Linked DNA regions of Homo sapiens: region 1 is linked to region 2. Evidence: fine-mapped expression QTL. Tissue or cell type: cerebellum. Region 2 holds a variant in brackets; the other region holds the start of a gene. All regions are shown on one strand. Distances are between the middles of the regions.

Region 1 (4,239 bases), 23 kb before region 2:
GCACCACTTCATTTACATGGGGTGAACGCCAAGTGGCCAATGGGAAACCTCTAGGAGGTATTTGGACCCCAGAAGATTCTACAGCAGGGGCTCTTGAGCCCATATGCAGGGGCCTGCTCCCACCTTGTGGAATGCACTTTTGTTTTCAATAAATCTCTGCTTTTGTTGCTTCATTCTTTCTTTACTTGCTTTGCTTGTGCCTTTTGTCTAATTCTTTGTTCAAAATGACAAGAACAGGCCGGGTGCGGTGGCTCATGCCTATAATCCCAGCACTTTGGGAAGCTGAGGTGGGTGGATCACCTGAGGTCAGGAGTTCCAGACCAGCCCGGCCAACGTGGCGAAACCCCGTCTCTACTAAAAATAACAAAAAAAATTAGTGGGACGTGGTGGCGCACACCTGTAATCCCAGCTACTTGGGGGGCTGAGGCAGGAGAATCGCTTGAACCCAGGAGGCAGAGGTTGCAGTGAGCTGAGATCGTGCCATTGCACTCCAGCCTGGGCAACAGAGCCAGACTCTGTTTCAAAAAATAAATAAATAAATAAATAAATAAATAAATAAAGGCAAGAACCTGGACACCCTCCACCCGTAAACAGCCAAGACTGTGCCACAGCACTCCAGCCTGGGCGACTGACTGAGACTCTGTCTCAAAAAAATTAAAATAAAACAACAAAAGTATGAACCAAAAAAACCACCTCTGTGGGCTGGATGTGGCCTTGGGGGTACCAGTTTGCAGACCCTGTGTCAAGCGGCCTAGGACCCAATCTGTATCCTTTGTTAACTGTCACCGATACTGACCTCAGACCTGGACCACTGGGATCCTGCCCTGAACCCCGTGCTTTAGTTGGCCCACTCCAGCTGGAGCGTATGTTCCCTTCTAGATCATGCTCCTGGTACCCTGGACTCCGGAAATCCCTGTGTAAACAGCCCTGAGCCTGCTTCCAAGGTCTGACTTCCATCCACCCAGGGCAGCCTGCCCTGCCTGGCCTGAGTATCGTTAGAATGAAGGATGGCAGGGTAGGGGGTGTGTGTTTGCCTGAACCAGTAGACCCCCTTCAGTATGTATGGGATGGAGTCGTGTGGGAATAGAAGCAGCAAGACTACTAGCAAGGGCTCTGCATTTGTACTCTTGCCCCTGGCTAGGCAGTCGCCAGGGGTGGGCCTGCTTCTCACTGACCCGTGGGTCAGGCTGTAAATAAGAGCGACCCTCGATTCACTCTTTACCCTGGGCCAGGCAGTCCGATGCATCCTGCATCCCATCATTCCTAATACCAACTCTGAGGATGCTGACAAGCAGCAGCCCCGTTTTACAGACCGAGGCACAAAGGCTGAACTAAGTTGTCCATAGCTAGTGAGTGGCAGAGGCAGGGTTTCAATGGGACAGTCCGTGGCGGAGCACACTGGCTCCGCCGCCAGCCCCCCTGCGGTACCCATCCGCGCTCGCCGCCTGGGACCGCCAGCCCGGGGCGGGGCGCAGGCAGGGACCCTCCGCTCCCCTCTCCGTCTGCCGCCCGGACGGGCCACCGCGGGGGCGCGAGGAAGGGGTGTTGGGTCGCCAGGGCCCGCCTCCCAGCTGCCCCGGCCGCCGGGGGGCCTGGCGGTGACGGCGGCGCCTGGCGGCGGGGATTTGGCGCGGGCCGGGGGCCGGGGGCCGGGGCGCGGGGGCGCGAGGCTGGATTCCTAGGGCCGCGGCGCTTCCCGGCATGCTCCGCTGCAGGCCCGCGCCCGCGCCCGGACTTTGCCATCGGCGGGGCAGTCGCGGGATGCGCCCGGGAGCCACAGCCTGAGGTGGGTGAGCCCCGCCGGGCCGGGCGGGCCGCGGCGAGTCGGGGAAGGGGACGCGGGGGCGCGGGGCCTGGCCCGGCTGCCGGGGAGAGGGGAGGCGGGTGCCGCAGCTTTGTTCTTGCCGCGGGGCCGCGCGCCCGAAGTTGGGGAAAGGAGTAGGAGCCGCGCCCCGGAGCGCTCCGGGGCCCGTGCGGCGCGTCCCGGGCGGGCTGGGGGTCCCTCCCTCCCGGGGACAGAGTGGGCGTCCTGGGTGGACGAGCACGGGGAAGCGGGTAGGGTCTTGGGTCTGTTCTGTCCTTGTGGTTCTGGAACCGGAGGGGAAGGGGGAAAGTAAGGGAGAGAGAAAGAGACGGAGAAAAACAGGAAAACTTACTCTTCAGTACGCAGGGAAGAATAGAGAAAGAAAAACACAAAGAAACGCCACGCAGACTGCAGAGAAGGACCACGAACACACGCTCCGAGAAACACACTCAGCTCACACGCACTGAGAAGCACACTTAAGATAAACACTCAGGTCACACACACAAGCACACTAAGAAACATTCAGTTCACACACACTCAGAAACACACGCACTCAGAAGCACACAAGATAAACACTCAGCTCACACACAGAAGCACACTCAGAAACATTCAGTTCACACACACTCAGAAACACACGCACTCAGAGGCACACAAGATAAACACTCAGCTCACACACAGAAGCACACTCAAACATTCAGTTCACACACACTCAGAAACACACTCCGAGAAACAGTTCACACTCGCTCAGAAGCACACTCAGCTCACACACACAAGCACACTCGGAGAAACATTCAGCTCACACACACTCAGAAACATACTCTGAGAAACACAATCAGCTCACACCCACTCAAGCACACTCAAGATAAACAGCTCACACAAGCACATTCAGAAAACACTCAGAAACATAGCTAACACTCAGAAACACACTCTGAGAAACACAGCTCACACACTCAGAAGCACACTCTGAGAAACAGCTCACACACACAGAAACAGAAAAACAGCTCACGCACACTAACACAAACACACACGGAGAAACACACTTAGAAGCACACTCAGCTCACACACACCCAGAGAAACACGATCAGAGAAACACTCAGAACGCACAGGAAGAGAGAGGAAACCAAGTGGGTGGTCTTGGAGGCCTGGGGACCGGGGGAGGGGAAGGAGAGACACTGAGAAGCGGGAGACGGGAGCAGCAGAGGGAAAGATGCCTGGAAAGAGAAACAGAGATAAAGGCAGACATAAGAGGAGGCAGAAAACACAAAGGCCAAAAGGAGGTGGTTAAAAGGACAGTAAAGAGAAACACACACGTAGAGAAACAGAGGCGGACCCTGAGAATTACCCCCCTCCCCCACCTACCTCTCACAAAATCAGCGACACACACAGAAGAGGCAGATGCCAGCCTTCTCCTTCTTGTGGTCCAGTGAGCTCGAGATGGGAGAGCAGCTCTGTGAGCCCTTTGAGAAAGGCTTCCTTGGCACTTTAAGCCAGGCATGTCCCAACCTTGTCTACCTGGCAAACTCCTGCTCATCCTTCAAAACCCAGCTCTAGCCTCACCACTCCTGTGAAAGTGTCAGTTCCCAGAAAGTGTCATGCAAGCACAGTTACTCTCTTTTCTGTGTTCTTCTGCAGGAAGCACAGGCACATGGAGTTGAAGTGGTTTGTCACCTGTCTGCCTCTCCCACCAACTCCTTAAGATCAGGGTCTCTGTCCTATCTATCTCCAATCTCCAGTGCATGATGCATAGTAGATGATCAATAAATACTTAGTGAATGGTGACCGAGAGCGTTTGGACCCTCCGAGACATGGAGGATAGAATTAAGTGCAAATAGAGGAAAAGCACCCTCCTGGTATTCTAAGGACTCCTAAGTCAGAGTGTCTTTTTTTCACGTGGGGAAATTAAAGCCCAGAGAGGGGAGAATGCTTGCACAAAGAGAGACAAGCAGGAGGCCTACAATGAAATAACAGTGAATATGTACTTCTGTGAGATGCCCTTGTTCTTCTGGCTTATGAGTTTAAAATAGGTGTGAAAGACCCCGTTCTTCAGTTCCTCTCTCCAGAGGCAGCTACTGTTATCAAGTTACATTTTATGTGTGTTTGTGCCTATCGATGTGTTCATACTAAAAAAATTCTGTGCACTAGTATATACAAATGCACGGACTTCTTTCATTCTTCTTTTGTACACAAATAAAAGAATTCTATGAGAAAAAGAAATAGATGTGAAACAGTCTCCTGAGTGAAAACTGGCAAGAGGCAATGGACACTTTAATGCCAGTTCTAAGTTTCCAACACTGAAACTGGCAATTAGAACTCTTTCCAGAACCTTTACAGTCTTCTTTCTTCCTTAGAAAGGAAAAGTAGAGTGAATGTCCATCTCAGTGTAAGTGGATGGCTTTCCATCTCCTGACTGCATATTGGAAAAATTCTGTAACCTC
Region 2 (4,239 bases):
GCAGTGTTTATTGTTTGATTTGTAGTGCTTATTGTTTTTGGAGTTTAAATTCTCCCTGCATGTCTGATTTCAGGGTACCAACATGATGCCATTGAACATGGGACGTGATGTGCATAATCAGCTCTTGGGAACCTTCAGGTGTGGGCTACAGCACCTCACTGGACCGCTGGGTTCCTAGTAGAGTGGAGGAAGTGTTCACTTAGCCACAACTTTGCTTCACCCTGGAGGCCAACTGAGGCATGTTAGTATACCCTCTCCCTGTAGTTCTGGAGTGAGGACATTGGAAAGCTAAACAGTGGTGCTTGATTCAAGGTGCTTGATCTAATTTCTGTGGCCTTTGTCTGAAGAGGGAGGAATAAGAACGTGTCAACCTGGAATTCCCAGACTGGCTGATTGGGTCACATTTGGAAAGCTGCTGTGTGCACATCTGATTATCCTGCACCTAGGACTATGATTCATTTCTTCTTTCTCAGAACGTGTATCAGTTTGTTATATTGATTAGCCTGATTGTCTGAATAGTGTCTTTCTGTGTCAAATCTATGAAAGTTTGAACCCTATATGCTTTTGCTGAATACTGTATTTCCAATACCTAGTAATTATACCTAGACTGACACATAGTGGGAATTTTTTTCTTCAAGTTTAAGTGAAAATTTATTTATTTTTTTAAATCTCCAAAAGCTTCCCATTGTTTATTATTATTTTTATTTTATTTATTTATTTTTTAATTTTTAAATTTTTTTATTATTATACTTTAAGTTCTAGGGTACATGTGCACAACGTGCACGTTTGTTACATATGTGTACACGTGCCATGTTGGTGTGCTGCACCCATTAACTCGTCATTTACATTAGGTATATCTCCTAATGCTATCCCTCCCCCCTCCCCCCACCCCACGACAGGCCCCGGTGTGTGATGTTCCCCTTCCTGTGTCCAGGTGTTCTCATGGTTCAATTCCCACCTATGAGTGAGAACATGCGGTGTTTGGTTTTTTGTCCTTGCAATAGTTTGCTGAGAATGATGGTTTCCAGCTTCATCCATGTCCCTACAAAGGACATGAACTCACCCTTTTTTATGGCTGCATGGTATTCCATGGTGTACATGTGTCACATTTTCTTTATCCAGTCTATCGTTGATGGACATTTGGGTTGGTTCCAAGTCTTTGCTATTGTGAATAGTGCCGCAATAAACATACGTGTGCATGTGTCTTTATTAGCAGCATGATTTATAATCCTTTGGGTATATACCCAGTAATGGGATGGCTGGGTCAAATGGTATTACCTTTTATCTTAAGGAATAGAAGAGCGATTATGAGCATAGGCCTGGGATGCAAGAAACACATTCAAATCCCAGCTCTGCCACTTACTGTGTGGCCTTACACAAAATCGTGTGTGTGTGTGTCTGTGTGTATGTGTGAATTGACGGAGCTAATGTATGTAATGTGCCTCACCCACTGCTTTACATTCAGTAGATGCTCAAAAACATTGTAGCCATGGGCCGGGTGCAGTGGCTCACACCTGTAATCCTAGCACTTTGGGAGGCTGAGGTGGGTGGATTGCTTGTGGCCAGGAGTTTGAGACCAGCCTGGCCAACATGATGAAACCCTGTCTCTATTAAAAATACAAAAATTAGCCAGGCACAGTGATGTGTGCCTGTAGTCCCAGCTACTTGGGAGGCTGAGGCAGGAGAATTGCTTGAGCCTGGGAGGCGGAGGTTTCAGTGAGCTGAGATTGCCCCACTGCACTCCAGACTGGGCCACAGAGCAAGATGCTGTCTCAAAAAAAAAATGTAGCTATGTACACTTCAAAGTACACAAACACACAAATGCACATGCTGATGATGCTCAGTGTGTCTTCTTCCAGCAGCAAGTACTCAGATGACTTTCCTTGTTTGCCCTGCTGGCCCATCCCTGCTTGGGGGAGATACTTCACTTGGTCTGTCTCCATGTGATCTTTGAAGGCAGGTGTCTGAGCCTCAGCTCCCATGTGCCTGCTCCTCTCCAGTCCCTTCCCTTGTCTTCCCCAGTTGTTTAGCATCTTCTTTACCTCCAGTGTTCCTGCCAACATTGGTCCCTGGCTCATTGTCTGGTCTGAAGCTTATCATGGATCTGAATGTGATGGTTCTCCCACAGCTCGCTCTGTCATCCCTGCTGTGTTTTCCCTTATGGTGGCTGAGTGGTCCACTGCCATCCTGCATGGCACCCCCAGCCTCACCTGCTCCTGCCAGTGCTTGTGGTGGGACTTGAGCTGGAGCTGCAGCTGGAGGGCTCCAGCTTGCCATAGCTGCCCACTGTCCTTTCTAAATGTATTATTATTGCCTTGGCTAGGCCTCTCCTTTTCCTGGGACAGCAATCTGAGGTTTTCTTGGTCTTGAGGCCATATAGAGACCTTGATTGCCAGACTCTGACTCCCTGGGGAGTGCTTTCTTAAGTTTATAGCTTGGCCCATTCTGGAATGATGCTGTAGTCTTCCTCTAAAGCCTGCCTCCCACTTTCTCTGAGCCTTCCCTTGCTCCTGAAACAGAACGATTACACTGTTCTGATGTCCTTACTTTCTTATTTCTCACCTTTCCCTGTGCATTCTCTCTCAACCCTGTGGCAGCCCTCTGACCTCCTTGCATTTCTGGCGAAGGTCT[A/G]TGCATGGCATTGCCTTCCTGCCTGCCACTCCGTTTGTCTCTCCTAATTACTGGGATTCTGTTTATACAGACTTCTCACTTTGGCTCTTTGGTTTTTTAAAAGTGATTTCTGCTTCAATTCAGCACTTTACCATTTCTCCTTCTCCTCTTTGTTATTTACTTCTGCAAATGGGATTATTAATTTTACTCTTTGAAACTTTTGGCTTTGTCCTCCCCTGATATGGCTTGGCTCTGTCCCCACCCAAATGTCATCTTGAATTGTAGCTCCCATAATTCCCATGTGTTGTGGGAAGGACCCAGTGAAAGACAATTGAATCATGGGGGCAGTTTCCCCCATACTGTTCTCATGATGGTGAGTAAGTCTCACGAGATCTGATGATTTTATAAGGGGTTTCCCTTTTCACTTGGCTCTCTCATTCTCTCTTGTCTGCTGCCATAAAAGATGTCCTTTGCTCTTCCACCATGATTGTGAGGCCTCCCCAGCCATGTGGAGCTGTGAGTCCATTAAACCTCTTTTTTTTTTTTTTTATAAATTACACAGTCTTGGGTATGTCTTTATTAGCAGCATGAGAACAGACTAATACATCCCCTGAGAGAGGCTTTTCTCTTATTGTCTTTCCAGATGACCCAGCCCCATTTGTCTTATGAAGGGTGAATAAGACTCCTTTTCTCTTCTTTTAAAAATTTATTTTTATTGATATGTATATTAGATATACATACTTTTGGGGTACAGGTGATAATTTGGTACATTCATGTAGTCAAATCACAGTAATTGGGACATCCAATACCTTTGTTAAAAACTTCAGTGGAAATAAATTTAAAGGAGTTTAATCAAACAATGAATGATTCATGAATCAGGCAACCCCCAGAATCACAGCATATTCAGAGAGACTCCAGGGGTGCCTTGTGGTCAGAACAAATTTATAAAAAGGGAAGTGAGGTACAGAAATAAGAAGTGAGGTATAGAAACAGCTGGATTGGTTACAGTTGGTGTTTAACTTAGTCCATGAGTAGTTTAACTTAGTCCATGAGTAGATGAAGTGTGGCCACTGGGATTGGCCAAGACTCAGCTATTGTTACAGGTGCATACTCCTAAGTTAGGTTTTCAATCTTGCCTGCCTATTAAGCTGGGTTACATTTTGTCCACAATCACTCATATATAGAAGTATGGAGTCCTTCTCAGGCCATATTTAATTTGCTTTAACACCTTAAATATTTATCTTCCTTTAAGCGAGGAACATTCAAATTATTCTCTTCTAGCTATTTGGAAATATACAATTGATTAATGTTAACTATAGTCACACTGCTGATGTATCGAATACTAGATCTTATTTTTTCCATCTAAGTCTATATTTGTACCCATCAATCAACTTCTCTTCATGCCCCTCTCCCTGTACCCTTCCTGGCCTCTGGGACATCCTTTCTCTTAGTTGGTGTTGTTGTTGGACTGATCACTCTGTCCTGACCTGGTAGGACTTTGCTCATTCCCCATCTCCTCTCCTCAGGAGAACACATGCCACACTCATCTTACTGGAGTCTGTGGATTCCTTAAAACAGCCTGGGAGATCTGGAGGGGTAGCAACTATTATTACTGGTTTTTAGTTAGGA

What was found. PIP is the estimated chance that this variant, and not a neighbour inherited with it, causes the effect. A credible set is the group of variants that fine-mapping cannot tell apart.
Region 1: TMEM98 starts here. The variant in region 2 is the best candidate, but not a certain one, in a credible set for the expression of TMEM98 in cerebellum (GTEx, PIP 0.82).

Annotation. Positions count from the first base shown.
Region 1 is chr17:32,926,452-32,930,690 of GRCh38, forward strand. TMEM98 (transmembrane protein 98) reads left to right here and starts at 1,702. Exons shown (of 8, transcript NM_015544.3): 1 at 1,702-1,786.
Region 2 is chr17:32,949,685-32,953,923 of GRCh38, forward strand. No RefSeq gene overlaps it. Among named protein-coding and RNA genes, the nearest start is that of TMEM98, 24 kb to the left of the region's middle. The variant A/G (reference allele first, on the strand shown) is at 2,632.